Linked DNA regions of Homo sapiens: region 1 is linked to region 2. The links come from fine-mapping of genetic effects on gene expression. A gene starts in region 2. The other region holds a variant in brackets. All regions are shown on one strand. Distances are between the middles of the regions.

Region 1 (14,100 bases), 53 kb after region 2:
AGTAACCCAGCCTCCCCCACCCTTGCTAGTCCCATGCCTCCCTCTGGGTCCCTTGGTGACTCAGGCCCAGCCCAGCAGTTACCCTCCTGTGGTCCTGAGTAGGGCTTTGGGCTCAGGCAGAGCACCCAGTGACTTGCCCCCACCCACAAGTGGAGCTTGGGGACTCCACCTGAAGATGGCCTTGTGTGAGTTTATAGATTGGTGTGCCCCAAACTGCTCAAAGGTGGAAGCCAAAATCTCATTCTTCCAGGTCCAATGACAAGAGCTGATCACTTTTAAAACACAGGATTCTTGCCTCTAAAGTGTTCTACAGTCAGCAGAGGTGTGATGTGCCTCTCTTTTTTTGTGGGGGGAGGGGATAGGGTCTCACTCTGTCACCCAGGTTGGAGTGCAGTGGCGCAATCCTGGCTCACTGCAACCTCCACCTCCTGGGTTCAAGCGATTCCTGTGCCTCAGCCTCCTGAGTAGCTGGGATTACAGGCACGTGCTACTTCGCCTGGCTCATTTTTTTGTATTTTTTGGTAGGGACAGGGTTTCACCATGTTGGTCACACTGGTCTTGAATCCTGACCTCAAATGATCCACCCACCTCAGCCTCCCAAAGTGCTGGGATTACAGGCGAGAGCCACCACGCCTGGCCAACATGTGCATCTTAAATACTGTGGGCTGTGAATAAGCAATTGGACAACAGCTTTCCGATTATATAAGCTGACTGTAGGCTAGTTGGAAAAGGCAGAGAAAAGCATAAAGAAGAGACTGAATGTCATTGGACCACACCGCCCAGTGACCTCTGGCTGCCCTCTGGTGTGCTCCGTGGTGTGCACATGTATGCTTTTTATTGCCCTAAATGGGCTCATGCGATGCTGTTTTGTGATATGATTTTGTTCCCATTGCAAAGCGAGTTTTCCTTCACAGTTAAAATGTTTTTCTATAGCTTTTTTTCCTTCTAAGATTTTATGAAATTTTCCAAGCACATAGAAATGGCAAAAGAACTATACAAGGCACTCTGAGTCTGGTGGCCTGCATTCTCACCGCTTTAAGTGTGAGAATCTTAAGAATTATTAAGATTAATTCATGATATTAATTAATGTATCATTAATTCATTAATCATGAATTCATCTTAAGCCTCATGTGTCCCTTGTGCGTGTGGCTGCTCTGATGGGAGTGGCTTGGGCAAGGACTTCAGCTTCATGGAGTAGGGGCCAGGCAGGCAGGCAGCCCTTCCCCACCTTCATGCTACATCCATCTGAGCAGCCAGACCCAGGCTGACATCTGTGAGCATCTGTGCTTGAAGCCGACAGGGTCAGCAGGTGCTTGGTGGTGGGGGTGGATATCTGGGCCCCCCGGAGGGCTCTGTGAGGGCCAGGTGGAGCCACTCACTGGTCCTTTCACTCTCTGCAGATGGTCTTTTGGTGTCCTGCTGTGGGAGATCGTGACCCTAGGGGGAAACCCCTATCCTGGGATTCCTCCTGAGCGGCTCTTCAACCTTCTGAAGACCGGCCACCGGATGGAGAGGCCAGACAACTGCAGCGAGGAGATGTGAGCGGGGACTGGCTTTGGCCCAGCCTCACTTGGGAAGGGAGGGGACATCTGTGTGCATTCCCTCCCCATCCAGAGCAGCCCCAGGAGAAACCAGGAGAAGTGGGGGGTGGGGAGTGGGCAGGGCAGAGGTTAGAGAGCCATCCTTGGGTGTGGCAGTAGATGCTGGGGGTCCTACCCCACTGAGGGCTGGTGGGCTTCCTAGGGGGTCTTATAAAAATGAGTGAGAGCAGAGACTGGTGCAATGCAAGCTCAAGGGCTGAGAGCTGTCCCAGCAGGACACTTAGGGAGGAGAAGGTAATTCCAGATGGCCCAGGGGGCACGTGTTAAGGGGTGCCTGAGTGGAGGTGCAGAGCCAGGCAGGGGCAGCCTGGGCTGCAACCTGAGAGGTTGAAACCTTTACACTCTCAGGGGAGATGGTCTTAGAAACCAGGCTGAGAACAGATGAGAAAGGGCTGCCCAGAGGCAGAGATGCATGGTACATGCATTCCACAGAGTGTGCACACTGCTGGGGCGTGGAGGGGGCATGCTGGGCCGAGAAGCCAGGTACCACCTCCCTGGGCCCCCAGCTGGTGGCCAGCTGGAGCGCTGTGGTCTGCCTGGGCACCCAGGCAAGCAAGGACGGTGCAGGACAGACGTGTGATTGCCAAAGGTTCTTGTTTGTCTGTCTCCACACCTAAAAGCCCTCAATCAATTCATTCTTCTTGAGAGTTTTAAGGACTGGCACTTCTCACTTAGCTGCCAGAGCAAGCATAGTATCCAGTGAGCTGTTTACCAGTGTCTTTGCAAGGGAAGTAAAAATGAATCTCCCTTGGAGGGAAGGGAAGCTTGTAGGATTCTGGACCACAGCTCTGAGAGACCTGAGCACAGTGGCCCACGGGCTGGGATCCTGCAACAGGCCATGCCCCAGTCCCACGAGGCTCAGAGATGTCAGCGATGCAGAAATAGCTTTGGAGTTGGAGACAGAGCACACTGGGCCCAGGGTACAGGGCAGGGTGCGATGGCTGTGGTGGGCTGTCCTTCTGAGACCTGGCCCTGCTTGGATCATATTGGCCTGTCTGCTCTTCCCACCAGGTACCGCCTGATGCTGCAATGCTGGAAGCAGGAGCCGGACAAAAGGCCGGTGTTTGCGGACATCAGCAAAGACCTGGAGAAGATGATGGTTAAGAGGAGAGTGAGTGCCTGGGTCCAATTCCCACAAGCTGAAAGTGGCTTGGGGAGACTCCAGCCTCACCCCAGGGCAGTAGTTTTAGCCCTCAGAGTTCCCAGTGTGGGGCCACAGTGGGATTGTGCAGAGAGAGAGAGTCATGCTCTCCCCTGCATGCAGACAGCAGATTGAACCCTTCTCAGGCCAGGCCGCTTGGGCTTCTTTTCAAGTCATGAAGAAACCAAGATTCTTGACATTTAGGAAAAGCTCTCTACAGACAGGCATGGGAGGAAAATATTCCAAAGCCAAAAAGAAATAGTTTTCCATAATGGAAAATGAGAAAGTTGAGTTAAAGCAAGTGCCCAAAATTCAGATGCCCAGAGGGGGGTCCGGCTGGAGGAGGGCAGTGAGTAAGGAGCAGTGGAGACTGTGGCAAACAGCCAGCCCCCTCCAAAGGGTTCCTTGCTGGAGTACCTGTGGCCTGCAGAAAAAGGAGCCAGGAATGGGCTGGGTCTTCTGAATTTTATGAGGTTTATGTTGTCTCCCAGTTTTTATTGTTAACAATTCATTTAAATTTCCCAGAGCCGAACGCAGGCCAAACAAAGCATATCGGGGGGTGGCCAGAGTCAGCCTGTGTGCCTGGAAGTACAGTTTGTGAGGTCTACACATTTTCAACCAATATTCATCAGGCAGCTGCTAGGACCCATACTATGTCTCAGAGGCTGGGAATGCAGATAAACAAGACCAGCACAGCCCTGCCCTCACGGGGTTTACACACAGGCCTTGTCTTAACATTGGCACATTTACTGAGTTGTCACTTCTTCCGACTTGGATAGCGGGATGCAGGACCTAGGACCCCATAGGAAAACTTCACATCACTGTCTCGCTTGGATGAAAACTTCAAGTCCTGAGAATGCAGCGTTGTTCAAAACAGAAGCGATCACTGGTGCTGGCCTTCCTAGAACAGTGCTGAGAAACAGCCGGGAAAACGCTGGGCCCCTCTGTGCACATTCAAGCTGGGCATTGAAAGGAGCAGACGCCAGTGGCCCCTCGTGCTGGGGAGCCCGTGCCTGTAGCAGGGTCCTGTGCACCCTGACAGCGCTGTCAGATTTCAGAACTCAGCCCTGACGTGACGTTCTAGATGGCAGGGGTCCTTGGGGAAAGCTGGAAAACATCCTGCAGGCTGGGGCTGCGTCCTGGCATGTGGCTGCAGTGGGCTCCCCCAGAGCCCAAGGGTTTGTCAGCGGGCTGGTTCCGTGCTGCCCATCTCCGGGTTGGGCCAGGGGCAGCTAGATGAGGCGTCCCCCAAGGCTGCCCTCCAGGCCCTGGAGATAAGACGCTGAGGGAGCACATTTCTTTCCCCAGGGAGGTGACTTTCCAGGGGAAGAGACAGAATAGACAACACCCAGGGGAGTGATGGGGACCTCAGAGCAGGACCAGGCCAGCCAGGAGTCCTGGGAGCTCTATGCAGCCTGGCCCTGGTCTCTTGGAGAGGTCAGGAGATTGGTGCGAGGTGGAGACACAGCCAGAGCCTCTGCCCTGAGGATGGCTTGTTGTATACTGAGTTGTATCTAGTTGTGGCACATGGCTTGGAGTGACCGGCCATCTCTGTCTTCCAGGACTACTTGGACCTTGCGGCGTCCACTCCATCTGACTCCCTGATTTATGACGACGGCCTCTCAGAGGAGGAGACACCGCTGGTGGACTGTAATAATGCCCCCCTCCCTCGAGCCCTCCCTTCCACATGGATTGAAAACAAACTCTATGGTAGAATTTCCCATGCATTTACTAGATTCTAGCACCGCTGTCCCCTTTGCACTATCCTTCCTCTCTGTGATGCTTTTTAAAAATGTTTCTGGTCTGAACAAAACCAAAGTCTGCTCTGAACCTTTTTATTTGTAAATGTCTGACTTTGCATCCAGTTTACATTTAGGCATTATTGCAACTATGTTTTTCTAAAAGGA[T/A]GTGAAAATAAGTGTAATTACCACATTGCCCAGCAACTTAGGATGGTAGAGGAAAAAACAGATCAGGGCGGAACTCTCAGGGGAGACCAAGAACAGGTTGAATAAGGCGCTTCTGGGGTGGGAATCAAGTCATAGTACTTCTACTTTAACTAAGTGGATAAATATACAAATCTGGGGAGGTATTCAGTTGAGAAAGGAGCCACCAGCACCACTCAGCCTGCACTGGGAGCACAGCCAGGTTCCCCCAGACCCCTCCTGGGCAGGCAGGTGCCTCTCAGAGGCCACCCGGCACTGGCGAGCAGCCACTGGCCAAGCCTCAGCCCCAGTCCCAGCCACATGTCCTCCATCAGGGGTAGCGAGGTTGCAGGAGCTGGCTGGCCCTGGGAGGACGCACCCCCACTGCTGTTTTCACATCCTTTCCCTTACCCACCTTCAGGACGGTTGTCACTTATGAAGTCAGTGCTAAAGCTGGAGCAGTTGCTTTTTGAAAGAACATGGTCTGTGGTGCTGTGGTCTTACAATGGACAGTAAATATGGTTCTTGCCAAAACTCCTTCTTTTGTCTTTGATTAAATACTAGAAATTTTTTCTGTTTCCTAACTTCATCATTGATTGTTTGAAATCTTGGAGTTTCAAGCATTTTTTTCAAGCTGAGACGGTTCCTTTTGCATGCCTCCTGACTCACTGACTCCTCACTGGCTTTGTGTCTAGTGCCACACTCCATTTGTGCTGACGATGCTATGAGGCTGGCCCGTGTGCACCCTCGATTTGGAAGGTCCTCTTCTCCGTTGTAGGCTCAGACAACAGACGAGTGCCTCCTTTACGTTAGAGAATGTTTTATAGAACGTTTCCGCTGCAGTAAGCCATTGAGTGCAGCAGTGTGCTGTTGCCCTACACTGCCTTAGAAAAAGAGTTAAGCAGTTCGACAAATATACATCAGATTAGAGAGTCTCAAGTTCATAAAAGTCAAAATTGGTAGTGTCTGTTAAGTTACATTTACCAAGAGAGCACATGATATTTCCCCTAACTATAACAGTGTTTTTGGAAACCTGGAACACAAAACCATTAATATAATTGGCACAGAAACCACGAGTTTGGTTTGAACATCAAAGGGAGTTTTGCCAAGGCCTTACTGTCTGCACTTGAAGTTTTGGTTCTTCAGTGCAGAACAAATGATCTGTTTTCATTTTTAGGCATGTCAGACCCGAACTGGCCTGGAGAGAGTCCTGTACCACTCACGAGAGCTGATGGCACTAACACTGGGTTTCCAAGATATCCAAATGATAGTGTATATGCTAACTGGATGCTTTCACCCTCAGCGGCAAAATTAATGGACACGTTTGATAGTTAACATTTCTTTGTGAAAGGTAATGGACTCACAAGGGGAAGAAACATGCTGAGAATGGAAAGTCTACCGGCCCTTTCTTTGTGAACGTCACATTGGCCGAGCCGTGTTCAGTTCCCAGGTGGCAGACTCGTTTTTGGTAGTTTGTTTTAACTTCCAAGGTGGTTTTACTTCTGATAGCCGGTGATTTTCCCTCCTAGCAGACATGCCACACCGGGTAAGAGCTCTGAGTCTTAGTGGTTAAGCATTCCTTTCTCTTCAGTGCCCAGCAGCACCCAGTGTTGGTCTGTGTCCATCAGTGACCACCAACATTCTGTGTTCACATGTGTGGGTCCAACACTTACTACCTGGTGTATGAAATTGGACCTGAACTGTTGGATTTTTCTAGTTGCCGCCAAACAAGGCAAAAAAATTTAAACATGAAGCACACACACAAAAAAGGCAGTAGGAAAAATGCTGGCCCTGATGACCTGTCCTTATTCAGAATGAGAGACTGCGGGGGGGGCCTGGGGGTAGTGTCAATGCCCCTCCAGGGCTGGAGGGGAAGAGGGGCCCCGAGGATGGGCCTGGGCTCAGCATTCGAGATCTTGAGAATGATTTTTTTTAAATCATGCAACCTTTCCTTAGGAAGACATTTGGTTTTCATCATGATTAAGATGATTCCTAGATTTAGCACAATGGAGAGATTCCATGCCATCTTTACTATGTGGATGGTGGTATCAGGGAAGAGGGCTCACAAGACACATTTGTCCCCCGGGCCCACCACATCATCCTCACGTGTTCGGTACTGAGCAGCCACTACCCCTGATGAGAACAGTATGAAGAAAGGGGGCTGTTGGAGTCCCAGAATTGCTGACAGCAGAGGCTTTGCTGCTGTGAATCCCACCTGCCACCAGCCTGCAGCACACCCCACAGCCAAGTAGAGGCGAAAGCAGTGGCTCATCCTACCTGTTAGGAGCAGGTAGGGCTTGTACTCACTTTAATTTGAATCTTATCAACTTACTCATAAAGGGACAGGCTAGCTAGCTGTGTTAGAAGTAGCAATGACAATGACCAAGGACTGCTACACCTCTGATTACAATTCTGATGTGAAAAAGATGGTGTTTGGCTCTTATAGAGCCTGTGTGAAAGGCCCATGGATCAGCTCTTCCTGTGTTTGTAATTTAATGCTGCTACAAGATGTTTCTGTTTCTTAGATTCTGACCATGACTCATAAGCTTCTTGTCATTCTTCATTGCTTGTTTGTGGTCACAGATGCACAACACTCCTCCAGTCTTGTGGGGGCAGCTTTTGGGAAGTCTCAGCAGCTCTTCTGGCTGTGTTGTCAGCACTGTAACTTCGCAGAAAAGAGTCGGATTACCAAAACACTGCCTGCTCTTCAGACTTAAAGCACTGATAGGACTTAAAATAGTCTCATTCAAATACTGTATTTTATATAGGCATTTCACAAAAACAGCAAAATTGTGGCATTTTGTGAGGCCAAGGCTTGGATGCGTGTGTAATAGAGCCTTGTGGTGTGTGCGCACACACCCAGAGGGAGAGTTTGAAAAATGCTTATTGGACACGTAACCTGGCTCTAATTTGGGCTGTTTTTCAGATACACTGTGATAAGTTCTTTTACAAATATCTATAGACATGGTAAACTTTTGGTTTTCAGATATGCTTAATGATAGTCTTACTAAATGCAGAAATAAGAATAAACTTTCTCAAATTATTAAAAATGCCTACACAGTAAGTGTGAATTGCTGCAACAGGTTTGTTCTCAGGAGGGTAAGAACTCCAGGTCTAAACAGCTGACCCAGTGATGGGGAATTTATCCTTGACCAATTTATCCTTGACCAATAACCTAATTGTCTATTCCTGAGTTATAAAAGTCCCCATCCTTATTAGCTCTACTGGAATTTTCATACACGTAAATGCAGAAGTTACTAAGTATTAAGTATTACTGAGTATTAAGTAGTAATCTGTCAGTTATTAAAATTTGTAAAATCTATTTATGAAAGGTCATTAAACCAGATCATGTTCCTTTTTTTGTAATCAAGGTGACTAAGAAAATCAGTTGTGTAAATAAAATCATGTATCATAAAATGTGTAAACTTTTTTTCTTTTTAACATTCTAGTTGGAAACAACAGATTTCTGATTTTGTAGTTTCCATACAATATTTAAAACATCACAAAGAATTCTATCATGATAACCACTGAGGCATCAATAGTGGTCGAGGACTAGGGGCTCTGGAGATATCGCTGGCTTATCTGGTACATTTGCGTGTGAATAGGCACATTGATAGAAACTGAAAAACTCAGCTAACTCCACTGTTCAAGGAATCCCTTCCTTAAAAGTGTCCATCCCTAGAACAAAGCAGCAGCCAGTGTCAAGTTTAGGTCTTCACAGTTCTCTAGCAATTTGCTTGTTGCTGATCTTTTGAAGTTGGCCTTAGAGCTGTGGGAGACAGAATACAAAATGCCAAGTCCTGAGGAAGGCCATTAGAAGTGTGAGGGAAAATGCTGTCCTGAACCACCATGAAGCCTGACATACTCACTACTTCTGTTTATGTCTTCCCCGAGGAATTCTCTGAGCTTCTCATGCCGGGCGTGGAGCTGATGGGTCAGTGGGCAAACGGGAGTTGTTGTCAACATCAGTCTCATCTGCGATTGCATTGTGTCAGATGCCAACGGCCTGTGTCACACACATACACGTGTGTATACGTGGGCCTTTGCACGCCTCGCCAGGTGGTGTACATGCAGGCCTTGGCACGCCTCGCCCAGTGCCCGCCCCAGGCCCATGAGGCCCCGCTTCCCAGCCGTGGGTGTCTGTGTCTGCTCACGGCTTCCTCCTTCAGCCTGGACCACGGGCTGGAAGTGAACGTAATCTCCAGAGCCAGCTGTTTGCTGTAGCCTTTACCTCTGAAAGTAGAAATCTACGCCAAGAAAAGTTAATGCTAAAAGCCACCCCTAATGTAGACTCTACATTAGGACTATTTGTGTGTGTATGTTTGCTGTTTTATTTTCCCCTAAAAACACATTTTCTGCCAACCTTCACGAAGGATTTCTTCCCACCACGAGGCCAGCTTATGTGGGCAGAAATCTAGTTGAATGTGCCTGAGAACAGGGCTTGAACAAATACTTCATACACAAAAGAAATTTTGAAGGGAAAGCATAATTTCTAACATATAAAGAAAGCCTCTCCCGCAGGCAGGTGGAGCAGTTAGCGGTGCCTCTCTCTGCCTCGGGTGCGTTCACGCATAGTGTCTGGCACACCTTGTTTTATTGCTCTTTGCTTTATTGCGTTTTTCACAAATTGAAGTTTTGTGGCAACGCTGAGTCGTCGAGAAAGTCTATCAGGGCCATTCTTCCAACAGCCCACACTCACTTCATGTCTCTCTATCAGTACTGTTAAGCAGTAAAGAATCTTTAAACCAAGGTATGTACATTGTTTTTTAGACATAGTTCTGTCACACACTTAACAGACTCCAGTACAGTGTAAAGTGTAACTTTTATATGCACTGGGAAACCAAGAGACTTGTGTGGCTCACTTATTTGGGATCTTCAATCTTCTTTGCTTTACCGGAGTGGTCTGGAACAGTATCTCTGAGGTTCGCCTGTGTTTAGTGGTCCTCACAACTGGGGGGTGGTTCTAGGAAGTCCTAGGGAATCCTAACCTCTGTGGCCCTGAAAAAGCAGAAAGGTGGGTCTTCAGGGTGCATGCAGCAGTGTGCGTGGCCCCACACGTCTTCCACATGAAGATGCTCCAGGTGCAAGTCCTAGGCTTGTGCGCCTGCAGGGAAAGCACCCTCTCTGCCAGGGCTCCTGCTGTGGCCCTGTCCCTTCTCCATGGCAGCAGCCTTGACCGAAACTGTGTAGAGTCTCCCACCTCTTCAGGGAGCTGGGACTCAGGAAGGATCATCTTAGCTGAGGTCATAAGAACCTGCATGTAGAGAACTTTTCAGCGTGGGGCCACTACTGTGTCCTGCTGCTGAGGCCAGGTAGTGGCCGTCTGAGGGCTGCAAGGGCAGGCTGCTCCCAGGAGTTAAGGAGGCAAACACTCTGAACACCCTGGAGAAATCACAGTTTATCTTTGCAACTACAAATTTGAGTGCTGTGTCAAGTGACCAGGTATTTTTGCAGATGTCTCTGAGGTGTTAAATCACAGGACCTGGCCAAGCAAGATCTCTCAGCTGGACCCCGGGCAGGGGATCCTTTATGGGGGCACATCTCACTGTGGGGGCTGCAGAAATGTGAAGGTCATCATGGAGGGAGCTTGCGGTCTGAAACTACCCCAGCCACTGTGACTACCACACTGGGAGAGATCATAGACCTGCATCCTCTCAGATGACACTGAGCAGTTCAAGCTAAAAATGTGCTGGTAAGCAAGGTAAGTGAATTCTAAAGCTAAAAAAAATCATTTTTCATTTTCTGAGAAGGAAACAAGTTTGATATTTCATACACAGACAATATTTACCATGCAGACTGTCAATTTCTTGAATAAAAATATGAAATTCATTTAAAACATTCAAGTTTTTGTGTATTTTTCTCAATGTATTAACAGAAGAGCAACCTGTTTCTTGGCTGCTCGATTGTCTCACCTGCACATCAATCCTTTTCTATACTCTCCCATGGAAGAAGGGGTCTCCAGGGGCAAGAGACTTTGGTCAGAGGACTGCAGGGAGCCAGGCAGCACCCATGTCTTGGAGCCTCCCCTCTCCCTAGGGCGTGTGCCTTGCTCCATATTTTGTGCCTTTCTTCTGGGAGTTTTCAAGAGCTTGAGAATTTTCCTGGAGACTCTGGCCACAGGGCCTGAAGCTCTTAGATTGCTCAGAACCCCATGGTAAAGGAGCACACTGAGGGTTTGGGGGACTTCAGTGTCTGGGAAGAAAAGTAAGATCATAGCAAATGATTTCTAAAAATAAGAATGACACCAAGGATGGAAGAGCTGTAGTGTCTCACAAGACAGTCACTGGAAAAAGTAGAGGAAGTGTGGTTGGACACTATTTTTAAAGAGATATTCACACAATTACCTCTAATCTTTAACTTTGTAGAAATAAGCAAAGGCTACCCATATGAGAACCCACAGGAGCCACTGGTTCTGAACTTGCTATAGCAAGAGAGTCAGCCAGGATCACTTACTTTTGGCAGACACTCAAAAGCAGGCAGAGGAGTGGGAAAGCCTTATAGTAAAAAATAAAAGGTGGGGAGGGTGAGGAGAAGCCTTCAGGGATGCTGTGATTGGGGCTTGTTGGCCTGGGGAAGCTGGAGGCAGCTAACCAGGAGGAGGGCCTCTTATGTGATTGGTTTGGGGGACACAGGTGGCTTTCTCTGTTTAGTTCAGTGGGCAAAAAATAGGGAAGCTTGCAGTTCCTGACCAAGTCCTAACCATTCTGGGATAATTGTTACAGAGGCTGTGGTTTGGCTTCCTGGCTAGTTCTGCAGAGAATCTGATTCAAATCCTCTGGCCGTATGTGGTCTGGCCATTGTCTGTTTGCATGTTCAGTCTCTTAGTCCCCCTTGTCGGTCATTTTCTTGTTTGTAAAAGGTTGGCCAACTCAAGGAAGTCTAGAGATCCAGCTCTTCACTGCTCAGAGATTATTCAGTTGTCTCTCTGGTCAACCGTATTGTGAGATCTTGATCCTTCTGTTGTTATAGCATCACAGTGCTCATTTGACAAGAATGGGATGCAGTGGAACAACATCAGGACCACTATGACAGAAACAAGAGCAACTGTCCCTGTGAGACGCTTTGAACGCAAACCTCAGCTGACCAATGCAGGCCAAGAGCAAATCCCATATAGGCCATGAGGATCAACCTTAGAAAGCCAAATAGCTTTTGCCTCAAGGTGATGTGTGACCTGTTCTACCTTCTCTTGTTTCACTGATCCAGATGCAGTATTAGCAGTGGCAGAGGCCATCACCAACCAACAAGAAATCTACAGCAATGAGACTGTCCATCACTACTCATGCCAATGAGTTGAGACTGATAGGTGCCCCATCTAGGGAAGAAGGGGCATTGCTAATGACTTCTGCCAGGGTTAATGATAAGTTTATGACAACAGGATTCCCACAGATGAGAACATTGCTCTGATTGTTTGCATAAACAATGAGTCAGTAACTCCCCAGTTAGAGTGCTGAATAACCAAGGGTGATGTTACGGTTTTTGCAGTTTTACACCAACCGGTTTGTGGTAAATCGTTACAGCAACCCTAGGAAAACCAACGCACCATTTCTATGTATGGTTAATGCATGGCAGGTGTTTAAAGGTATTGCAGGATATTGGTGCTTTTCCTTTCCCCAGTGCACCTCATTGATCTCAAGTGAGGGATTTTTCTTTTTGTCTTGATTTTTGTTTTCTAAGTTGAACAATCTTTTTTTCTCAGTGTCCTTTCTGTATACAGTATCTATAAGTGCCCTTGTCAGTAGCTGACTGGTTGGGGAGGGGCTACCCAGCTGTTTGATCAGCAGGGCCACAAGTTAATTTTAGGTCCTGTCTTATTTTTGTTCTAAAGCACTTTTAAAATGTCTGCCAGGTGTTGTAGTTCAGGTTAAGGGGCTATTTCCCATTCTCATTTCTGTTTTTGATTAGGTCTCCGATTTCAGATTTAGCTCCTTGACAACAAGCAATGAAAGGGCCACTTTCTAGACTCCCAAATGATACAATGTATTTTCTAGCCTATCCCAAAAAAAACTCCTGCAGGTCCTTTTGTTTGTTTGTTTGTTTTTGCATGACAAGGGATTATGGTCTAATCTTTTTGGTGGGGGGAATGTTTGAGATATGGCTTTTAGAAGACTTTGCCCTATGTTTTGAGCCTCTTTGTTAACTCTTCAGTTTTATTGTGGACAGTGGGATCCTAGGATCCCTTTTGGGGGAGTCTAGTCAACTTTTGCCATTCAGGATTTAGCATGCAAGGTTCTGGTCAATGTGTACAAGTTGATATGGGTTAGGTAACACTGGGTCACATGCTTCCCCCCGCCGCTTTGCGATAGGGTCTTGCTCTGCCACCAAGGCTAGAGTGCCCGTGGTGCAATCATGGCTCACTGCAGCCTCAACCTCCTGGGCGCAAGTGATCCTCCCATCTAGCCTCTTGAGTAGCTAGGACTACAGGCACACACCACCATGCCTGGGTTTTTTTTTCCATAGAGATGGAGATCTCACTATGTTGCTCATGCTGGTCTAACTTGTAGGCTCAGGCAGTCCTCACTGATTCACCTTCCAAAATGATGGGATTACAGGTGTGAGCCATAGTGCCTGACCAAAGTATTCTTAATTATTTTATGCATAGTTGCTGATCTTGCCTGGGTTTGGGGAAATCCTTAATTATGGTTATTAATTTAGCTTGGGTCTAAGGTTTAAATTCCACAGTTGTCTGTATATGGGGCTCATGGAGGAATAGGCCTTCAGAGAGGCAGCTGGCATCCTGGGGTCATAGGAGGGTTGTTGTGAAAGGGCAGGGATCTGGACAAGAGGAAGAGAAGTGTGGACAGATGTGTGGAAGGGAAGAGATCAGAAGGATAAGGGGGAGAAGAGGGAGAGCTGTATTAGGGAAGCAAATGGATGATAAGCAGAAGGATTTACTAGGAAAATGAGTCTAGGTTGTTGCTGCTTAAGTTTGCCAAATCGCTCATCAGCTTTAGCCAGAGTCTTTCAGGGAAGCACTTTTTGAATCAGAATATCATTTGGAGACCTCTGACTACCAATCAAAAAAGGCTGCTCATTGGGCCTAAGAAATCTTATTCTCTTTCGTTTCTAAGGCATCTCTCAAATGAGCAATTTTGTTCAAGTTAGATGTTCTCCAAATAAGATCTTCACCAAATCAACCTTGGTGAAGTTAATGCTTTTCAGAGATGGGCGTAAGGATTAGAATTGTTAGAGAGTATATGTAAGAAGCAGGAGTTTTTTCTGGAGGAGGAGATTTAAACTTAGACAACACCATGAATGCTGGCTGGTGAGGCTGGCGAGAAATGGAATGTTTGTGTCTCTCAGGACATGAAAGCGAGACGGAAGGAGAACCTCATTCAGTTTTACTGGAAACCCACAGCAAAGTTTCTCCAAGTAGAGGCCGGTGTGATGAGAACTGCTAAATCATGAGCTGCGAGGCTGGCTCAAACAAGAGGCTTAT
Region 2 (14,685 bases):
ATGTTTATAGATGGCTTCCATCCGCTCAGAGCCAGGCCGGCCAGGAAGAAGGGGCTTGGAGGAGCAGGTGAGCGTGCATCAAGGGGCTGCAGAGAGTGGGGCAGCGGACAGATGCTCCCAGCAGACCCCTGCACTCCCCACCTGCTGGCTGAGCACACTCCTGGCTGTCCTCCCTGCCCAGAGGGCATTCTCCTGGCAGACATTTGAACAGCAGCTAGGAATCCTCACCAGGTCCCCAGCTGCCCTAGATGCTGGGAGTTCAGCAGTCAACGCACCTGAACCCACGCAGGCAGACGGGGAACATGAGACAGACCAGGAACAGACAACAATGAAGAGTGATGCAGGGAGTCTGGGGCCACAGACATTGCAAGGCCTTCCTCAGGCCACAGGGAAATGCAGCACAGCTAGGGCGCTAGGCTCCATGCAGCGCCAGTGCCAAGCATCTAAGCAGGGTGGGAAGAGGTGACTTCTGAGTGATGAGTAGGAGTTGGACAACAGAGGGGCTGGGAGGAGCCAGGAAGATCCTCCCAGGCAGGTGGGGGTCCAGGACAGGGAACACCTGGGAGTCTGAGGGATGGGGAGTCTGGGGCAGAGGAGAGAGGGCTGGATGCTGAGGTCCCAGCATTAGTGATCAGGCCTGGGCCTCTGGCTGCATACAGAGTCCCCTGACAGCTCTTCATCAGCCTCTTAATACGCAGTAGCTCATCAGCCCCTTTCCAAAGAGGCCCCTGAGGGCAGGGCTCTGCCAAGGCTGAGCTGTGTCTGTGCTCCTAGCCATGCCTGCTGTAGGAAGGAAGTCCTGGGGCTGGGCCTGGAGGGAAGCAGAAGACTCTCCAGATAGGGGGTGCCCAGGGTGTACCCCTGCAGTGCCGCCCGTCTCCTCAGGGCTGTGCATTTTCAAGCTGCCTGGAAGCCAGGGCCCAGAGGGAATGCTGCAAGAGCAGAGTTCCCTGGAACAATTCAACCGGCTGCTTCTCTGCTCTCCTTCCAGCAGGGAGGTGGGTGGCAGGAGCCCATCTTCCCCAGGCACCCCCAAGGAGAGGCTACGGAGATGTTTTTTAGAGCTGCATTGCTCAATAAGTATCCTGGCCACATGTGAATATTTAATTTTACATTATCTTAAATTCAATAAAATTAAACATTCAGTTCCTCAGTCACACTAGCCACATTTTAAGTGCTCAGGCAGCACAAAGTTCAACATGGTCATCGTCGCAGAACCTTCCCCTGGACAGACAGAGCAAGCAGGGAGGGGCCTCTCTGGTTTGTATGAGGGGTCCAGGCATGGCGGGAAGCCCTGGGCAGGCCTCAGCTCAGGTAGCAGCACAGGGTAGTGCAGGGGCTGGAGGGGAAGTCCTGAGGGCTCTGCCTGCAACCAGCCCCAGGGCTTCCAAAGCAACAAAGGCCTGCGGGAGAGCCGGAAGGGGTACCAAGTGCCTGGGCCCAGTGCAGTACCTGAGCAAGTACCAAGTGCCTGGACCCTCTGTAGACACAGGGGCTGGAAACCACGCACGACCTGCACCCTGCACCCCACACCCAAGGGCAAGCAGGAGGGAGGAAAGGAAGGTGGCCGGCAGGCAGCTTACAGTTCCCTCCTGTCCCTGCAGCTCACAGCAGCTCCCGAGTGTGGAGCAAGGCAGGCTCCCCTGTGCACCCACAGGCCTGGAGGGCCCTGGCAGATACACACCTTGCCAGAGCCACAGCCACCTCCATCCTGGGCCCATGGCAGCCTGCAGACACCACTGGGGCATTCAGTCACTGGCTTCCTGTTTGTCAGCATCCCAAAGCACCACAGGGTTTTTTGGCTCCAAAAGACCTCCTGGGCCAAAGTGAGCCTCTGAAGGTCCTGCGGGCAGGACACCTCTCAGAGGACGGAGGGCGCACTGCAACTTCCAGGGAGGCCAGCCAGAGGCTGCTGAGAGGATGCTCTCCGGGAAGGGTGAATGCCTGCCTGTTCCTGCTGGGGCACTGCGGGGAAGCCAAGGTTGGCTGGCCTCCCACCACCTCCCGGTGTCTCCAGGGCAGCACTGTCCCCCAGCACCATCTTCTTTGCCCAAGGTCAGCTCCCGGGGCCGCCCAGGCCTGACAACCATCACCTACATCTCTTCTGCCTTGGACCCCTGCACACATGCCTTGAGTTTGGGAGACTGTCCCCTAGATGTACGGGGAATGGAGGGACTTGGTTTTCTCCACTGCAACGTCTCTGTTTCCAAAAATGGTGCCTGGAATATAGCAAGGGCCCAGGAGATATCTGTCAAATAAATAAGTGGGCTTTTCAAGAAGGACGAAGGGCAATTGTGCAGACTGGGGGAAAGAGAGATTCTCCTACCAGTGTTGGAGCAAAAAACAAATCCTCAGTGGTCATTTTGGGTTTGGCGACTGAAGAGGAGAAATGCTGAGAACACTGGGAGCAGGCGGGGGCACACTTCCTCCCTGGAACCCCGCTGAATGGCAGCTCATGGTGGCCTTGGATGCCAGGGTTCCTCCTTCGAAGTGGCTCCTCTGTGGCCCTTCTGTAGCCCCTCCAGCTCAGACCTGGTTGTAGTTGAGAAGCCCAAGGAGAAGTTGTAAATAGGTTTTGCAATGGCAATGGTGAGCTTAATTTTTCATTGACCTTACCTCCAGCTAATAACGAATCGGGGGGCGCTCTTTCACTCACAGAAGCAAAAAGGAAAAGAAAGGGCTTCCTAGTGACGAGATAATTTGTCAGAAAGTTATGAGTGGGCACGGCAGGGCTGTATAGGAAGTGTGTATTGAACAATACGACACACTGGCTTCTAATTGCTGCTGCCTTTCTGATCAATAATACATGTTTTCAAAAAGCCTTCTGCTTGCATTTACACAATGGACTGTAACTACTGCAAAGATCCATTAAGGCCTATTTTAAAAAGCGCATTCGTAAAAAGTTGTCTAAATCTGCATTACAAGGCAGATTATGAAACTGCCTTGGGAGATGTTTTGTCTAAAAAGCATTCAGCCTGTATCTGCTGGACAGCTGACTCGAGCTTCCACTCTCCACGTTGCTTGGAGCCAGGATGCCTTCTCCAGAGGATGCACCAAGCAAGGCACCGGCAGGCCTGAGGTCCTGTCCACAGACCAGCCGGCCTCTGAGCCCCTCGGGCTGGGGCTGCCTTATGTGAGCCAATCCCCCAGGAGCCTGGGTGGCCGCAGACATTAATCAACCCACCACTCCCGAATGTGTAATTCAAGGTCAGATAAGTGGTCCTCTGCGGCAAATAGGACTCTGGGGACCCAGGTCCCTCCAGCACTGAGAAGGCTTCTGGTTGCATGGGGAGGGCTCAAAGCCTGTGGCCAAGCCAGGATGCAGAAGACAGGTGTGTGCTCTAGCAAGCCAGTCTCGTTGACCACCAGCCCCACACAGCACACAGGTGCGTGCTGTCACCTGTGCAGGTGGGAAGCCCGGACTGTTTGGGTCCAGGGCCCCCTGGCTTTCTATGCCACCCTAGCACCATCCAGTGACTGCTTGGGCCTCATGGCCTCAGCTCCTACAGCTGACAGGACAGAGGCTGATGACAGCGGCAGCTCGTGCTGATGGCCAGCGTCCCTGGGCTAAGGACTCTGTGCAGACTGACTGTCTGCATCCCCGGGGAACTTGGGGAGAAGGAGCTCTGCCTTCCCACTGAGGCACGGAGACTCTGGGTAACCCGCCAAGGACATGGGGACAAGAGACAGAGCGCAGACACACTCAGAGCCCCCTGCAGCCTTCCCACCATGCTACTGCCCCAGGCCACACCTAGACAGCCCCCTGTAGGAGAGAAAACCCTGGCAGAGGGGCAGGAAACACTGCCACTGTCTGCTGAGCCCACTGATGCATCATTGGGCTTTACCCTCAAGGCAGTGCCCATGTTATTGCTCTCATGTCACAGAGGATGACACCGAGGCCCAGAGAGGACCACAGAAGCTGCTGAGTGGTGTGGCTAGCCTGGCTCTGGTGCTGAGCGAAAAGGATGGAGATTCCTCCAAGGGAAGGGGAGGAGAAGACGGGCAGAGGGGAAAGAAGAAAGGAGGGCGAGGGAAGGAAATTCACAAGAGAACAAAGTGTGGGGACATGGAAAACTGAAGTGGGCAAAGTGATAATGATAGGTTAGTGGGAGTAGGTGGGCAGGCTGGTGGGAGGAGGTGGGCTTTCTCTGAACCCCCCAGGGTCTCTGATGGATATGTAGGCCCCTGTTGCTTTTGTTCGGGCACCCGGCTCCTAATCAGGCCCCAGGGAGGATGCAAAAGGGGTCTTCTCCCAGGCCAGGTTGAGGGCTCTTCTGCAAACACCCCTGAGGGCACCTGAGGCCCACAGGCAGGCAGGACCTGCACAGTTAGGTAAAGCCTGTCCTGCACAGCCACACCCTGCAGGCCCAGGCCAGGTGTTCTGTGAGCATGCTCATGGAAGCAGCATATTTGGCATAGGGTGGGCTGGCTGAGCAGCCCCTCTGAGTGCCCTGAGAGCTAGCTGGTGGTCACTGGCTTCCTCCTCGCAGCTGCCCTGGAGGGCACCAACAGCAAGGCCAGGGAGGCAAACCGTGGGGAGCAGTAGACCTGCCCCTCACCTCAATAGCCCGATGGGGGAGCAGAGGGCAGTGGCAGACAGATGGGAAACTGAGGCACCGACCACTTTGCTAACAGTGCACACAGCCAGCCTCAGAGTCTGTGCTTCCAACCACCATGTCACACTGCCCATGGGAGGGACCTGGACCCCTGCCCACGCCCACTCTGAGAGGCCTCGGTCAGCAGTTCCAGGAATGCCACCCAGCCTTCCAGTATCACCAGGACCGAGCTGCGCTCTTGAATGTGTTTCCCCCTACCTGCAAGTCACGAGGCACCCCCAGAGCCAGAGTTTCCTGTCACTGCACTCAGCCTCACTCCAACCATGCTTCTCAGTGCAGGCAGAGACCCCCATGTCACCTGGGTCAGAGGACACAGAGCATCCCGCCCGCCTCCCGCCAGGCAAACCTGCACAGGCATGGCCCAGATCTCTGTCCATGATGGGTTTCCCTCCTCCCTCCCTTCCCTGTGCTGCGTTTTGGTGCTTTGGGGTCAGACCTGAGGTGCTCCAGGTAATCTTCACCTGCTCAGAAGCAATGAATGACCTCCAAGTTCTCACATGCTACAGGAAGATGGTGTGAGCCGCCTGCCCACTGAGCATCTTACCCTGCACTGGGGCAGAGCCTTGAAAATACCATCTCCTCACAGTCACCAGGGAAGGACACTGTTTCAGTCCCCATTTGAGAGATGACAAAACTGAAGCTGAGGAGTAATGTATGCAATGTCACACAACTATGAATGGCAAAATTCAAACTCAGGTCTAATCACTCCAAGCAGATGCCTGCACCAGAACCTCTTGGGGAATTTTTTTTTTTTTCTTAGAGATAGCGTCTCACTGTGCTGCCCAGGCTGGTCTCGAACTCCTGGCCTCAAGTGATCTTCTTGCCTTGGCCTCCCAAAGTACTGGGATTACAGGTGTGAGCCCTTAGCCTGGCCCCTGAACTTTTTTTTTAACATGGATTTTTAGGGAGTGGGGGACCCAGGATGTGTGTCTTCATAAAAGCTGCCCTGAAGATTCTCCAAGGGGACCTGCGGGCAGGGACAGGAAGCACTGACCACACTGTGATGTGCCCTCCTCCAGCTCCCAGAGAGCCCGCGACCCTCAGCAGGGCAGTGTGGCCAGGGTGCCCGAGCCCAGGCCCAGGAAGGCCCAATGGCTACAACTTATTAAGGGCTTCCTGTTTGTCGGGCACTGGGCTCTACCCTCACATGCACCCCTCTTTCTAGTTTCACCCCTTCTTCTGAAAGGGAGATGTTTATAGCTGGGGAAACTGAGGCTCAGAGAGATGACTAAGGGGAGTCAAGAAAGAGAGGCAGAGCCCCCTGCAGGCCCTCCCCACCCCATGGACTGAGAGAAGCCAGGGCCAGGACTCCTGGGCAGCCAAAGACCGGCACGTCTGCTTTGCACTTCACCTGGCCCCCACCTCCCCTTGTGAGACCTCAGGGGGTGGCCTCGCTTCCCCTCTGCTGGGCAAGGAGCTCCTTCCTGCTGCCTGATGTTCTGGATACTGAGCCTACACCCAGGCAGGGCTGAATCTCCTTTCCCCGCAGTCCCTGAGGCCAGCAGGCTCTGGGCCTCACAACTGTCCTCTGCTGAGCGACCCTTTGGTCAGATCCCTGGGCGTGCACGTAGCAGGGAGGTATGCATCTGTGTGCGTGTGTGTCCACGTATGGGAACACAGGTGTATGCATGTATGCATGTGTACAGGGTACACCCATGTGAGGGCCCCCCAGACCTTTTTCCAAGGAGTAAATGACACCCTCTCATAGTGTCAGGTGTTCACTCAGGACCCCCAAGGGTGAGGGTGGAGCGAGAGCGTGGAAAGGCCTAAGGTAGGCTAGGCAGGAGCACAGCCCCAGATGGCCCCTTAAGATGGCCACACAGAGCCCAGCCAGACATCAATGTCAGCCAAGGGCTGGCCAGGGTGGTCCCCGGGAGGTGCAGGGGTGGGGCTATTTAAGCCTACCCACTTCTCTCTTCATTCACCTAGGAGGCAATCACAGGAGCTTGTCTGTAGCCAAAAGATGCCCCCAGCCCCTCCCTACCTATCAGGTCCCTTCCCTGGGCACAGGCCTGAGTGTGTAGCCTAGGTAGCCACTGGCACCAGAGATGGAACCTGTCTGAACCCAAGGGAGCCCCTTGTGGCCAACTCTAGCTCCATAAACTGGAAGGGTGTGGCAGGCAGCCGGAGTCCAGTGGCCCACAGTGTCTCTCCTGGGCTGGCAGGCCTGTGCCCCGGCCACCTGCCCCTCAGCAAGCCAGGTCTGGACATCACGGTTGGCTGAGTGCAAGCCAGCCTCTGTCTTGGCAGCTCCCCCTCCTGCCTGTGAGGGTGACTTCACTTTGACTTCATATCTGCAGTGATGTGCAGATCACTTATTCAGCCCTGAGCTCAGCCAGGCAAGAGGGCGGGGTTCTGCACACAGCAAGCAAGGGAGCGGCTGGCTCAAGGGTGCCCTGGGCCCAGGTTCCCTGGCTTTTCCTCCTCAAGGGCCCATGGGCTTCCCTTCTTCCATCCCTCTGCGCCTAAGTGCAGGCCAGACCTCAAAAAGCAGCCGGGGATGGGGCGAGAACAGAGGACTTCCCCACTGAGCCCACATCCAACCTCACCCAGAACCCCTTCTCAGGTCCAGTTGCTGCTCCCTATTAGGGGTAAATGTGTTTATGCGCATCATTTCCATCATTTCTTTGGGGGAAAATTGGATTCTTTCCTCCTCCTCGCTACTCGCTCTCCGACTCTGCCAGCCCATCTCCTGAGAGTTCTCCTGTGTAAGGGATGCAAGGGCCACCAGCACCAGGTCTCTGAAAGGACGCCGGAGCCAGTTTCCGGTTTCCAAGGGTTGGACCAGTGCTGGAGGGGGGAATCACAAACTGCCCTTCCAGGACCCTACCCTCTCTACTACCCCAGGATGCTGAAAAAGGCTATTCTGCCTCTCTTCCCCTGCTCAGCTCTTCCCCGCCTCCTGCCTCCGGCCCCAGCAGAGGCCGCGCTCCCACTGCGCCTCTCGCCTCTGAGAAATGGCGCAGCAAGCGCTCCGCGGAGAGCCTGGAGGCGGGGCGCCCTTCTCTGAGTCCGCGGGGTCGCACCCCGAGCCAGTCGGCCAGACCTGCATCCCGCGTAGCATCCCTGCCCTCTCTGTGCAGCGGAAAGGGCAAAAGGCAGGGACTGCAAGCGGGCGCGCACCGGGTAGGAAGAGCGGCTCTGCGTAGGTGCGCGGACCCGGGCTCCTGGGTTCCATCCCCGCCGCGCACCTCGGGGTCCGCACCCGGCTCCTGCCGGGCCCTTTTCGGCCGCACCCCGCTCCCGCACCCCGCTCCTCCCCAAGCCCCACCCGGCCCAAGCCGCGCGTCCCGCACTGAGCTCCTACACGCGCCGCGCCCCGGCCGCACCCCGCGCAGCCAGAGCAAGCACTGGAGCCCCGCCCCTTCCCGCACCCCACCCGCCTCCGGCCCCGCCTGGCCCACCCCTGGACCGCCCCCGCCCCGCCCCGCCCCTACCCGCTCCTCCGGCGCAGCCGGCGCTTACCTCGCTTCAGTCCCGCGACCGAAGCAGGGCGCGCAGCAGCGCTGAGTGCCCCGGAACGTGCGTCGCGCCCCCAGTGTCCGTCGCGTCCGCCGCGCCCCGGGCGGGGATGGGGCGGCCAGACTGAGCGCCGCACCCGCCATCCAGACCCGCCGGCCCTAGCCGCAGTCCCTCCAGCCGTGGCCCCAGCGCGCACGGGCGATGGCGAAGGCGACGTCCGGTGCCGCGGGGCTGCGTCTGCTGTTGCTGCTGCTGCTGCCGCTGCTAGGCAAAGGTGAGTTCTGCCGGCCGCCGGCTCCCGCAGGGGCCAGGGCGAAGTTGGCGCCGAGCAGCGGAGCGGGCGCGTTCAGAAGCGCCTTTCTGTTTGCCGTGGGCAGCGGGCTGTGCGGTCGCCGGCCACCCGGCCTCGGCTGGGAGCGCAGTGGCTGCGGCGGGCGGCGGGCGAAGGGCAGGACGCCTCGGGCCGGGCGCCTCGGGCCGGGGCTGGGCGGGTCTCGGGCGGGAGCGGAGCGCGGGCCGGGCCGCGGGGGTCGGTGCTCAGAACCCTAGCCATAGCCGCAGGTCTCAATCTGGCCGCGCCCTGCGCCAAAGCCGCGTCCTGGAGCAAACGGGACAGCCGTTTCGGGGCCGACCTGGCGGACGGGTCAGGGAGCCCCGAAAGCCCGCGATTCGTGCGGAGAGTTCTGTTTCGGCAGGAGACGGCTCCGTCCTGGTTTCCTTTTCCCGCTCAGCGTCCGTGCGTTCCTCCCCCAGCTCTGCCGTCCTGGCCAGCCGAGGGATTCGGAGGCTCTTTTGAAAAGATTGCTTTTCCCTCGTGCGTTTTTGCCGCCCTGTCTTTAAACACCTAAAAACCGTGGTTTCTGGGGTGGCTCCCCCCGAGGGGCCGCCGTGATAGGCGTCCCACCCGGCAGCCCTGGAGTCGTGTGGCGCTGCCTGGCAGAGATGCTGAAGATGCGGCCATAGGAGGCCCAGGGCTTGGGGTGGGGCAGGGGTTTGCGCCGCCAGCCAGCGTTGGTGCTGGGCCTGGTGAAACCTCAGGTGCCTTAGGATCCCAGCATTAGGTGTGGCCTTGCAAAGATGGTCATCGACCCCACCCAAACTCTGGCAGAGTGAGCCGCAAGGCTGTGGAATCTTTGACCCCTTGGCACGCGTTTAAGTGTCCCTCAAACTGGCCCTGACTTGATCCCCTCCAAGCGCTTGTGTATGAACCAAGTTTCCCTCTAAGAGGGAAGGAGCCCTGGCCATCCTCCCTCACTCCTTACAAAGGGCTTTCTCTCCCCACAGCCTTTGGGAACAGAAGAAGCCATGGTCAGTCACCCTGTCTCTGGCCCCAGGCCCTGCACAAACTGAGTTTCCAGGCCTGCCTGAGACTTCATTTGTGTGACCTGCGCCTCAGCTCAGCATATGCTGAGGCCAGAGCGGGTCCCCAGTCCACCTAGCGAGGGACAGGGGAGAAGCCCTTGCCTTTCTATCTTTTCTGAGTGTTAGGACTTTGGGGTCCCAGTGCTGCAGGGGGAAGACACGGGGCAGAAGCAAACAAGGCGCTCTGACGCTGTCTTGGGATTCTGGGCTGTGGCTTTGGCTTTGAGGTTGTGGGCAGGGGGCCAGGTGTGAACTGCTGCTGGTGTGCTGGGCAGAGGACTTCCCCACACCCTTCCACAGCCTTGCGTTCAGTTGGGGTGGCCAGTGAGGCTGTGGGGGCCAGGCTCTGGGGGCCGGCTTGTGGCACTCAGCAGGCATGCAGGTAGCTTTCCGTGCCCAGACCCCTGGCCCACAGACAGCTTCCCGAATCCAGAGATGGTGAGCCCCTAGCCCCTGGGATAACCCGGACACCACAGTTGGAGGCACTGGGAGTGAAGAGGCAGCCCCACTCCCTGGAGTAGACAGCTGGGGCCTTTGAAGAGGCTGCAGAGCTCTTTCCCAGGAGCCACAGCTCCGGAGGTTCGAGCCGCACTCTTGGAGCTGCCAAGGACCGCCCCAGTGAGCCCCTCGGTGCTCCCCAACCACCCCAAGGGGACAGCTCGGCCTCAAGCGCCCTCTTGCGGACGCTGCACTTTAGTGGCTGGGCCTGATGACAGGCACAGACTGGGTCTCTAGAGGATGAGGGTTCTTCCACAGCTCACACATGCACACTCACACTGGATCACCAAGACACACTCCTGCCCCTTCTCACAGCACTTGCTGCCAAGGCTGTGGACATGCACAGCGTGGTTCCTTCACACCCTGCCTCACCCACGTCCACACAGGGACCCCAGCCCCTCTCATCACTCATACACACAGGGACGCCACGTGTGTATATAGGGACACACACTCCTCATACCTGCAGGGCATAGCCTGTCAGCCCCAGGTATGCTGGAACCAGAGTGAGAGAACCTCCATCTAAAAGTTACATTCATTTAAAAGTTGCTCTTAAAGGTTTCTGGCATTTCATTGCTCAACACAGATACAGCTGTCCCCGTTGCTTGGATGAGGAAACTGAGTCTCAGCTTCTGGGGTTCCCCCCAGGTCCCAGGCTGACCCTGCACCTCAACCTCCCACAGCTCCTCAGCAAGCCTCTTGTCTCTTGTCTTCCTGGCCTGACTTCTTGGGTCCTGTTTTGCAGCAAGGAAGGACATTCCCTCTCTGCCCCTGGGCCCCGGGGCCTTCTGTTCCCAGCATGGAAGAGCTGGGCACTGTGACTTGGCAGGGCCCGGATCCAAGCTGCCAGACCACCCTCTGCAGAGGGCCTAGGCAGCCCACCCCTGCCTGAAGCACCAGGTATCAGCGCGGGCAGCTCAGGCCAGGGGTACAGCTCCCCCTGCTTCATCCTTTTCCTTCTCCCCTTTCTCTGGCCAGAGGCTTCACCAGGTTCACCTGGGCCTGGCTTGCTTCCTCCTCCACTCCAGCTCACTAACCCTGTCTGGCCTCCAGAAGCTGCCTGCAGCCCTCACTGGTGGGCTGTGCCTGCTGGGGGCCTGCAAGCAGAGAGCAAATGGGGAAGTGCATTGAGCTGATTCACTAAATTGCCTTTCTTCTGCAGAATCACTTTAGGGACAGGCTGAGGAAATCACTGTTTCCTTGGTGGTGTGAAGAAAATGGGATGCGATCACCTAGCGGGGAGCTAATAGCCTTTTAGCCAGTGGAGGAGAAAACCAATTAAAAATTATGATATCTGTTAAAATGGAACCTGGGGTGCCAAGGGGAAGGGAAGGCCCGGAAGCTGCCATCTCCCCTGAGACCTTCCCCCTCTGCAGCCTGGCCGAAGACCCTCTAGGTCCCCTCGTCTTAACTGGATAAGGCTAATACCAGCAGTAGCACCCCATGGGGGCTCACAGTGCACTGCCCCTGTGCTGTGCCTACTCACTTCATCTTTTCCAACAAGTCTGCAAGGGTCATGGTCTTGGCCCATTTCACAGGTGAGGAAACAGGTTCTCATAGCCTATGGACTCGAACCGGTAGAGAGGATGCGGGAGCTCCCCAGCCCTGGCCCTCTGGCTTGCTCCAGCCCGTTCTCTGGGCCAGTGGTGTGGGTCCAGGGTGGGGCTAAGGAGGGCTTCCAGGGAGGTTGCCCTGAGCCTGCCCACCCACTGGTGAGTCCCCCCACCTCGGGCTCCAGGTGCCCTCAGGACATCCCAGCCCAGATCCCAGAGTAATGTGTGGCACCATGCACAGACGCTGAGATACTCTCTGGGTCTCGTCAGCTTTAGTTGATGTCTGGGAGTCCTATGGGTCTGGGGAGGAGCACCAGGCATGGCTGTGCCAGCAGAAGGGCCGACTGTGTGTGCTCTGTGGATGGCAGGAAGGCATCTTGCTGCCAGTGGCGGTGCAGATGTTCGGCTGGGACACCAGGCTGTGGCCCTTGCAGCCAACATATGCCTGAGGCCCTGGCATCGGATGGAAGCTACTGCTCTGAAGACAAGGGTGCAGGGATGGGGTTTGGGCATCAGGGATGGGGGTACAGCTGTGTTTCCTCATGCAGGACAGGGCCTTCCTCCTCATTTTTCCCATCCTCCAGGACAGCCTGGGAGAAGAAAGCCAGGGAATAGGGGCAAAGCAGGGTGCAGCCCCCCATGCTCCCTGCTGCCCTCCTCCCCTCCTGCAGAGGCACTTCCTTTCCACTTCAGGAGCCCCTCCCCCAGAAGTGGGCCCCCCCCATCCCCCCTTCCTTCTTTGGAGGCTGCTTCCTGGTGCCAGGTTATGCTCCCTCCCCGTTCTCTGCTGTGCCCTCTATCTCCCCACTCCTCTGCAATTATTTTTCAGCAGAGTGACTTAATAGTAACAATAACAGTAACAATAATAGTAACAACAGCAGGCTGGGAGCACTCCTGAGGGAGCCTCGGCTCCTGCCCTGCTGCTCTAGGGCTGGGGACTCTCCAGAGCTGTCTCATGGCAGGGAGAGACCGTAGTCAAGGAGACCCTGTGTAGGGACTTCCGCATGCGTGTGTGGCAAGGGGCGGGGACTGGGCAGTGACCACCAGGCAGGGAGCACACCTCAGTCATGGTCACAGAGAAGGTGATGATGGCACCAGGGCTGTCTCTCCGTGCCCGTCTGCACCTGGGCCTGCCAGAGCCGTCTTCTGTGCCCCATGGGGTAGGGGAGCACCCCATGGCCCCTGGGAGGCTGCCAGTCAGTGGGACTATGAGGTCAAATGGGGAGGTCCCTTGGGGTCCATGACCCAGGCACTGCACCCCTTGGGGCTGGAAGGGGAGAAGGCCCCAGGCCCACCAGAGCCCCTCTGGCTCCCCCACTAGAACAGCAGCCAGGGCCGGCTCAGGGATTGAGGCGAAGCCTTGGTGCTTGATTCTTTGTCCCCTGAGGCAGGCTGTACCTCTCATAGGAGAACTTTGGAGGACGGGCCTTCTCCTGACCAAGGCTCTGGGACACTTGGCAGCCCCTGAGGTCCTGCTTTACCTCTCTGCTTTCTCCCCCCTTCTCTGAGCTCTGGGGCCAGGCCTGGGCACTTGGATTGGCGCTGAGACAATGAGGCCTGAACCTCCATGGAGCTCTGGTCCCGCAGCTGTGTGATCATGGGGGCCTCAGGGACCCCGCTCCCCTCCATTCCCCAAGCCTAGAGGCCATGAAGCCTGTGGGTCCCTGAACTGTCCACCCTGAGACTGCAGGCAGGGCAGGGCTGGGCAAGAGCAGGCAGCAAGCTGTCCTTGTTCCCACAGCTCCTCCTGGCTGGGCTCTTGGCCCCTGAAAAGCCTGGGGCAGGGAGATGGTGCCAGCAGGACCTTAAGGACAGCAGTTCAGGTCGCACCTGGCCCTGGAGGGAGCAGGTGGCCAGCTCCAAGCAAACACCTCTGTTTGCTTTTGCCTCAAGGAGTGGCTCCACAAAGTGTAGCAGCCCAGGCACCACCACAGAAAGGTCACCGCTGCACCTGGACAGGTGTGCGCCTACCTGGTGGACCAGCGGGCATAGGCTTTCCTCCCTGATATCAGGGATACCTGGAGGGCCTGGTGCTGGGGCTCTGTGCTCAGGGGAGAACCTGTGGCCCTACAGCCCCAGGTTCTAGACCCCCTCCCAGATTCGGGTGCTGCAGCTGCGCTTCCACTCCTGGCCCTTGCTCCTCTGTGCTGCTGCTCTCCATGCCCTGCAGGAGCCAGGGTTCCAAGGAAGCACCTGAGGGGCAGTGTGGCCCCAGGGCAGGAGCAGGACAGTGGCCACCAAGCTGTTTCCAGTTCCCTTGTGTGCCTGTGACTCCAGAGGATTCTCGCCCTTGTGTTCCTGAGAGGGAAAAAGGAAACATGTATTTCCTAGAATTTAAGTAATGACTGGGGAGATGTGTGCTCTGGGTGCCGGGACGAGGGTGGGTGAGCTGGAGGTGCAGCATGAGCTGGTGCAGTTCTGGAGGGAGGGAGAGGGCTCATTGGGTTTCTTCCTCATACTACTTGGCAGTGCAACTGGCACAGACCCGGCAGCTGTTGCTGGGCTAGGGGCCAGGGGCTTCCTCTTGCTCTGTTCCCCTTCCTGCTCCACCACCATTGCCTGTAGGGCGTCTGCCAGCCCCAGGAAGCCTAACACTTAGCCCAAGTGGGGCTCTGGGCCTGGCCCTCCTCACCCAGGGAAACAACGGGGCTCATGGGCGCTTGGTGACATGGGCACATTGCTCTGCCATCGTAAGGGGCCAGCCTGGCTATGGGACCCAGCACCGGTGGGCAGCCCACAGGTTGTCTCTGCAGGAGACTCCTCTGGCAGGTCACATACAGGATGCCCCACAGCACCTTGAAAACTCGTGACCCGGGAAAGCCTCAAATTGTCTTTGCTCCCCTAGCCTCCCCACCACCTGTATATGCAGGGGCATGTGAGACTGTACTTGGTGACAGGAATGCCCCCCAGTCTCAGGGGCTTAACGCCATCTACTATGTCCTTCTTGTGGCATAGCCTGGCATGGCCCTTACCCACTGGGTGGCCACACCTCCCAGCCCTTGTGCCTGGCTATGTGCACAGGAGGGCACAGAGCTTCAAGAAGCCTGAGGCTTAAGGAGCTTTGAGGCCTGGGAGGGGGCCACCGTCACTTTCCCTGTGTTCCGTGGGATCCTGTCACATGGTCGTTCTCACCCCAGGAGGCTTCAAGTACAGAGGACGCGGGGATGGGGGCACGCAGGGGTGTACCTGCACACACT

The links. PIP is the estimated chance that this variant, and not a neighbour inherited with it, causes the effect.
Region 1: its variant is fine-mapped to the expression of RET in whole blood (TOPMed, PIP above 0.99).

The regions. Positions count from the first base shown.
Region 1 is chr10:43,122,271-43,136,370 of GRCh38, forward strand. RET (ret proto-oncogene) reads left to right here. Exons shown (of 20, transcript NM_020975.6): 17 at 1,401-1,538; 18 at 2,613-2,712; 19 at 4,305-4,452; 20 at 5,842-8,081. The coding sequence ends at 5,999. Among named protein-coding and RNA genes, the nearest start is that of CSGALNACT2-DT, 9.1 kb to the right of the region's middle. RefSeq lists enhancers at 8,064-8,664, 8,665-9,265 and a silencer at 12,400-12,469. The variant T/A (reference allele first, on the strand shown) is at 4,650.
Region 2 is chr10:43,068,980-43,083,664 of GRCh38, forward strand. It overlaps RET (ret proto-oncogene), which reads left to right and starts at 8,090. Exons shown (of 20, transcript NM_020975.6): 1 at 8,090-8,352. The coding sequence starts at 8,280. RefSeq lists enhancers at 3,935-4,692, 4,401-4,692, 4,903-5,064, 7,147-7,413, 7,279-8,136 and 1 more and promoters at 7,629-8,312, 8,014-8,312.